Homo sapiens: one gene and its partner. The protein of the gene in region 2 purifies or fractionates together with the protein of the main gene of each other region. This does not show direct contact. Each region holds a gene or a part of one and is shown on either strand. Other genes may lie near its edges.

Region 1 (3,500 bases), on a different chromosome or scaffold from region 2:
TGAATGGCCTGGTGCCTAGTTCAGCACACAGCACACCACACGCAATACATATTCATTTAACATTCAAAAGGATGAATGCTTGAGAGTAAAACTACAAACCAGCAGCCACTAAGACGATTTGTCCGCTAATCAGAGGATCCTGAGTAAGAATTTGAGCTTAAATCTAACCCCTTCCTGGCTGTGCAACCTCAAGCAAGTCATTTCAGCCCTAAGAACCTCAGCTTCCTCCTCTAGGAAATGGGAATAATTATCATTAATAAATACCATCCCCACAGGCTTGTGGCAAGGCTCAAAGCAGAAATGGATATGGAAGTAGAGGGGGTACTGCCAGTGTCCTTCTATCAGGTGGGGTACCCATCTCTCAGCAGCTGTGGGTGCTGGCTGCTAGCAGCTCACAGCTGCCCCCTTCCCCTGAGAGCTGCCCTTGGCTTACAGGAGCTGCCTCATCTGGAGATGCAGGGGGAGGCTAGGCCCTTCCCCGGGAGCAGCTTGCAGACAATGACCACCAGCTAAGGGGCTACAAAGGCCTGGCCCCTTGTCTGGAGGAAGGTAACCCTGGGAGACTGGCTGTTCATAATCTAGAGCTCTCCGTGGGATCCTAGCTGTAAGCAAATCTTTTCCCGCTCTAATATGAGCATGCCTGCAATAAATCATTTGCCCGGGAATCCTTGTCTCAGCTCTGCTTCTAGAAGACCAGACTTGAGACAGGAAGTATTTTGTAAACAATGACACACTAGGCACAAATATGTGTTTTTTTAATTTTTTTTTTAATTTTAGGAAACATTGAAAGTAGAGGAGCTAGCAATGTGAGAGGAGGAGGCGGTCAGCTCTGTGGGCAGGGGTGAGGGGTAGGGGAAGCCCAGTCATGCTGCTCTGCCCCCACCCAAACCCTGCCTTCATGGAATGCTTGGGCAGGTAAGGGGGACAGACAAGAAACCAACAAGAGCATAATGTCAGGGATAAGTGCTATGAAGATGATAAAGTAGAATCAGGAGATGGGGGACAACGAGGGCTGTTTTTGATAAGGTGGTCTGGGAGGCCTCTCTGAGGGGGTGATGTGGGTGGAGATGTGAACATCATGAGCCATGTAGGCCTTTGGGGAAGAGAATTCCAGGCATAGGGAATAGGAGTGCAAAGGCCCTGGGGCAGGGTGTTTGATGGGTCCAAGAAATGACCTGGGGATCAGTGAGGCTAGGATGTATGAGAGAAGGTCTGAGGTATTGGGCAGCCGGATCACATGGGGTCTTGCAGGCAATTATAGGGCTTTTTTTTTTTTTTTTTTTTTCTGAGACAGAGTCTTGCTCTGTCACCCAGGCTGGATGCAGTGGTATGATCTCAGCTCACTGCAACCTCTGCCTCCCAGGTTTGAGGGATTCTCCTGCCTCAGGCTCCTGAGTAGCTGGGACTACAGGTGTGTGCCATCACACCTGGCTAATTTTTGTAATTTTAGTACAGATGGGGTTTCACCATGTTGGCCAGGCTGGTCTGAAACCCCTGACCTCAGGTGATCCACCTGCCTCGGCCTCCCAAAGTGCTGGGATTACAGGTGTGAGCCACTGCATCTAGCCTGTTATAGGATTCTGGGCTTTATTCTGAATGGGAGGGGAGTCATTGAAGAGCTTTAGCAGAGGAAGGATGTGATCTGATTTAAGTTTTAAAGGACCTTTGGCTGGTGAGGCAAGGACGGGGCAGGAAGACCAGGTAGAGGCTGCTGCAAAGATCTAGGAGAGGATAGTGGAGGCTCAGAAGGGAAGGCAGCAATGGAGGTGACAAGAAGTGGGTGGATTCTGGGTGTTTTGAATGTAGAATTGAAGGACTTGTTGATGACTAAATGAGGTGTCAGGGACAGACAAATGCAACTCCCAATTTACAGAGAGGACAGAAGAACATACTAAATAACACCACAGGGATGCAATCAACAAAATCCAGTCTGCAGGAAACACAGCAGGACAAACCACCTGCTTCCTCCCATAGATAAACTGCAAAAGAATAAGAAAAGATGGAGAGGAGAACTGTGGATTGAAAGAGACTAAGACATATCAACCAATCATAACGTGTGAACTTTACCTGGAACTTGATTTAAACAATTTAAAAAACAAAAAGACATGTCTGAGACAACAGGGAATGTGAATACTAAGTGAATATTTGACTATATAAAGGAATTAATACTTCTTAGGTATAATAATGGTATTGTGATTGTGTTAGAAAAAGTCCTTATCTTTTAGAGAAATATCTTGATTGAGATGAGATTGGACATGTGTTGGTATCTGTTGATGCTAAGCCATGAGTATATGACTGTTATATAACATTTTCTCTACTTCTGTAAATGCTTATAATATTTCACAATAAAAAGTTTGCAAATAAAAGACAGAAGAGGAAACAGAATCCAAGGGAGGGGGTTGAGTGGCCCTAGGCCCCTCAGTGAGTCAGTGTCAGGGCCAGGACCTCAGCCTGGACCCCCAACCCCCAGCCCTCCAGCCCTGCCTCGGCTGCCCCTCTTGTCCTCAGTGGCTGGTCAAGGCTAGACCCCGGGAACCCAGTGATGAAATGTGTGACCTCAGGGAAGGCCCAGATTAGGCAGAGTGGGGCTAAGGGATGCAGGGTCTTTGCCAGGCCCTGCAAGGAGAAGCAGCCCTGGGCCACCTGTCCCACAAGGTCCAATGAGGCTGATCATTTAAAGTGCCCTGCAGCAGCAATCCAAGCTGGCTGCCCCACCAGCCTCACGACCCATGTCCTCTCTCGTGTTCCTATGCTGATTTCCTCCCCAGCCCCTGAGACCACCACTCACATTCCAGCCTTTGCATCTTTGTCCCTGCTGTCACTCTGCCTGGAATGTACCCCCCCGCCCCCCGCCCCGTCTCTGGATCTGACCAGCCTTTCCTTCCAGGTCTGCCTTCTGCAGAAGACAACCCTCCTTCAGTCTTCCAGAACACACCTGCCTCCAGTCTCTGAGACAAGAGATTATCCCCATTCCTCGACGACAGGTGCTGAGGCAGAGAGGCTCACAAGCACAGCTTCTGGAGCCAGACTGCATGGCTGTGAATCTGGCTCAGCCACTTACTGTGTGACCTCAGGCAAGTCACTTAACTTCAGTTGCCCCATCTGTAAAATGGGGATAACCCCATGAGCTTACTAAGAGGACTAAATGAGTTATAAATATGGATAAACAAAAGAGCGCCTGGCACATGTCAGGGATCCCCGGCCCCTCCTTTGTGCCCCTACAAGACTCCCCAGTGCTACACAACCACCACTTTGCCAGATACCCCACTTCTGCCATACTCCTTCTACAGCCCTCCTGATACCCAGATGTTACCTTACCTTACCCCCTTTCCCATCCCGCCAGGTTTCAGGCACCACAGGCCTGGGAGGAGGGAGAGGGAATATAAGCCCATGAGGGGACCAGTTAGGAACCAACCACAGATAAAAACTCTCCAAACACACGTGGCAGCATGTGACTCACATGCCATCAGATTAAGGGGAATGGAGTTTACGTGCTCATT
Region 2 (4,019 bases):
TCAAGTGGTCTTCCCACCTCAGCCACTCAAGTAGCTGGGACTACAGGCATGCACCGCCATGCCAGGCTAATTTTTTAAAATTATTTTTTGTAGAGACAGGGTTTTGCCATGTTGCCCAGGCTGGTCTCGAACTCCTGGGCTTAAATGATCTGCTGGCCTCAACCTTCCAAAGTGCTGGGATTAAGGCGTGAGCCATCATGCCCAGACTCCATGACATAACTCCTTAATCAATGTTCTATACCTGTAGAAACTGACTTTAAAATAAAAGCTAAGGGCTGGGCGCAGTGGCTCACTTGAGGTCAGGAGTTTGAGACCAGCCTGGCCAACACGGCGAAAACCCGTTTCTACTAAAAATACAAAAATTAGCCAGATATGGTGGCACATGCCTGTAATTCCAGCTAGTCAGGAGGCTGAGACACAACAATCACTTGAACCTGGGAGGAAGAGGTTGCAATGAGCAGAGATTGCACCACTGCACTCCAGCCTGGGCGAAAGAGCAAGGCTCTGTCTCAAAACACAAACAAACAAATAAATAAATAAAGGCCAAGAAGCTGTTTGTGGAGGGTATGTCTCAAAGTCTAATGATACAACGATATGGGAGCCAAAATTCCCATGTCCAATAAGGCCCCAGAGAGCTGTCACGGTCTCCCTCACTCTAAAATTTCAGTTATGCTAATTATAACGAGATTACACAACCTCTTCTTTTTCCAGGGTTCCTAAATTCCCTCCTCACCCAGCTTAGGCTCCATTATTGCAATCACTCCCTCACATACACCCTTCCCTTCCTGCCCCACTCTCCCTTAGAGTCGCACATGCCTAAAACATGCTAACGCTGGTTAAACACAGCTCTACTCTTTTTCTGTACCTGCAAATCACAACTGAACACATGAGACTAATTAATCTCACATGAAATGTATGGCCCATAATCTCAAGTGGGCCCTTCGCGTGGTTGCCTATCTGAGCACACTTCCCTAGTCCACCCACACTCCCACGCTCCAGATGACCATTTCATGCCTCTTCTCTCTCCTCAACTCTCCTTCTCCTTCCCTCGCCTCAATCACAGCTGATGCTCTTGCTTTCCATTTCACTGAGAAAACAGAAGCAAATTAGAATAAACTTTCCACATGCTTCTACCACTACACCCACCTACCCACTTGCTTCTAAGCCTATATGCTCTGCCTCCCCTCTTGTTACTATGGAAGAACTATGTTCCTATCTAAGGCCAACCCTTTTTATCTATCGATCACATTCTCTTTTCTCTGGCCTCCTCCAGGTCATTATTCAGGCAATCTGTTCCCTCTCTTCTGATTCAATTTTTTCCCTCTCTCCTAAGTTTCATGCTACTCATTCCATCAGCATACAAATAGGTCTCCCATCTTGGGATGGGAAAAAAACAACTCTCAACCCCACATCTTCGTCCAACAATCACTTCACTTATCTTCACCCCTCTCTCCTGGACTTTACAGCGAACTCTTTAAGAGATTTCTATATTGCTATCTCCAATTTCTCTCCTCCTATTCCTGCATTCTTGAACCCACTCCAATTAAGCTTTCACTTTCACCCTCCACCACTCCACTGAAACTACTCAAAAGGGTCCCATGATACTAAGACCAATGCCAGTTCTTGGTCTTTAACTTACCTGACCCATCTGCAGCACTGGGCACAGCTGACCACTTACTCTACCTTGGAGTTTTTCCATCACATTCTTGGTTTTTCTCCTTCCATCCTCACTAGAAGCTTTTCTGTTTCCTCTGCTGGGTATTCTTCATCTCTTTTGCCTCTAATGTAGGAGGGCGAGGGCTCAGCCCTCATTTTTTTTTTTTTTTTTTTTGAGATGGACTGTCACTCTGTCGCCCAGGCTGGAGTGCAGTGGCGTGATCTCGGCTCACTGCAACCTCTGCCTCCTGAGTTCAAGCGATTCTCCTGCCTCAGCCTCCTAGGCCTCTTCTTATCTATATTCACTCCTTAGGTGACTTCATCCAGCATGTGGTTTTCAACACCATTCAAATGTATCTCTCTAGCCGAAACCTCTCCCCTCAACTTTGGAGTCTGATAGCCAATTACCAATTCATTGTCTCTTCTTGATTACCTAACAGGCATCTCAAACTTGTCTCAAACTGAACACCTATCTTCCCACAAATTCACAGTAGTCCTAACCATCTGGCCGTTTACTGCAACAGCCCAGTAACTGGTCTCCTTTTGTCACCTTTGTCCTCCTGCGGTCTGTTCTCAACATAGGAGTTAATGATCTTTTTAAAAGGTGAATCAAATCATACTACTTCTCTGTTTAAAACCCTCCAGTGGCTTCCCATCTCACACAGTTAAATCCAAGGTCTTTGCAAAATCCTGCAGTGCGCTCTCCCCTGCAGCTCCAGCTTTCCAACCTCCAAGTCCTACCACTCTTCCCTCCCCTCACTCTTTGTAGTCTTGCCACAATGGCCCCCTTGCTGTCCCCAAAATGTTTCAAGAATACTTCTGCCTTATGGCCTCTGCATTTGTTGTTCCCACTGCCTGCAACAGCTGTTCTCCTAGATAACTACTAAGCTTACTCGTCACTTTCTTAAGGTCTTTGTCAAATTTTCACCGTATCAGTAAGGACTGTCCTGACTCTCTCCCCACTCCTCCAATTAAAGATATCATCATCCCGACCTCCGCCCCAGTATATCTTATTCCTCTCCTCTGCTTTGTAATTCTCTAAAGCATACTGCATACTATGTATTTATATATTTTACTAGTTTGACTGTCAAATTTTTTTGTCTTTTCTATTTATTGCTATTTCCCTACCAACAGACCTGACACATAAAAAGGTACTCAATAAACCCACTGAGTGAATAAACGAATTACTGTCTTCAAGGAGTGCTCTGGGGAAAGATAAAATCAACTCACAGCATGATAGGGAAAAAGGTGCTTCCAAGCACTTACCTGCTCCCCGACTGGGAGGGTCTCGGGCTGGGGGAGGTGGCCTATTACTCAGTAAAGATGGGGAGGCCGAGGTGGGTGGAGGAGGTGCTAGGCCTCTGACAGGCCCTGGTGTCTTCCTATGCAAAGAATTGTGTCTCTGTGGCAGCTCAGGGGCTGACTCATTAGTGGGGCTAGAGGGTCCATTGGGGACCCCAGGAGGCTGGCGGTAAGGCGGAGGAGGAGGAGCCAGAGACTGGCCACTTGGTCCTGTTCTGATATTCACAGGGGAAGGAGGTGGTTTGACTGGGGGTGGAGCAGGAGGTCCCTCTCGACCAGGGTGAAGCCTTTGTCCAGGCGTCGGTGGCAAGGGTTTCTCTCTGTTGTAGGCGGGGGCTTTGCTGCTGTGCATAGGCAGAGGTGTGGGGGGTGCGTTGGCACGCCGCCCTGGGGGTGGTGGGGGAGGGGCAGAGGAGCTGTGCTTCATGCCCGTACTGCTGGTGGTATTAGGCCGAGAGAGGTCCGGTAAAGAGGGTCTCTGCATCCGGGGCAGTTCTGGGAGTGAGGCCCGGCTGCTGTCTGTATCATCCTGAGGACGCCCGCTGGCGGCAGATACTGGAGGCCTTGGGGCAGCAGCTCGAGAACTGGGGATTTGCAGGGCTGGCTTACCAGCTAGGTTCTCTACAAATACATAGACAACACAGGGTCAACAGAGCTGGACAGATATTGGTCAGTATCCCTACTTCACTCGGCTCCTTAGTGCAACCTGCATGGCAGCAGGGAAAGGAATTGAATAATTCTGGGTTTTTTGTTTTTCTTTTTTTTTTTTTTTTTTTTTTTTTTTGAGACGAAGTTTCGCTGTTGTTGCCTAGGCTGGAGTGCAATGGTGCAATCTCAGCTCACTGCAACCTCTGGGTTCAAGTGATTCTCCTGCCTCAGCCTCCCGAGTAGCTGGGATTACAGGTGTGCGCCACCACACCTGGCTGATTTTTGTATTTTTAGTAGAGATGGGGTTTCACCACGTTGGACAGGCTGGTCTCGAAATCCCAACCTCAGGTGATCTGCCCACCTCGGCTTCCCAAAGTGATGGGATTACAGGCGTGAGCCACCACGTCCGGCCT

The links.
Region 1: the proteins of WIPF2 (region 2) and PACSIN1 purify together in Homo sapiens (co-immunoprecipitation; one large-scale study listed by IntAct). This does not show direct contact.

Annotation. Positions count from the first base shown.
Region 1 is NC_000006.12:34,472,576-34,476,075, reverse strand, and holds part of PACSIN1 (protein kinase C and casein kinase substrate in neurons protein 1), read right to left. Parts: intron 1-3,500. UniProt on the Homo sapiens protein: Plays a role in the reorganization of the microtubule cytoskeleton via its interaction with MAPT; this decreases microtubule stability and inhibits MAPT-induced microtubule polymerization.
Region 2 is NC_000017.11:40,264,050-40,268,068, reverse strand, and holds part of WIPF2 (WAS/WASL-interacting protein family member 2), read right to left. Parts: intron 3,580-4,019; coding exon 2,923-3,579; intron 1-2,922. UniProt on the Homo sapiens protein: Plays an active role in the formation of cell surface protrusions downstream of activated PDGFB receptors. Plays an important role in actin-microspike formation through cooperation with WASL.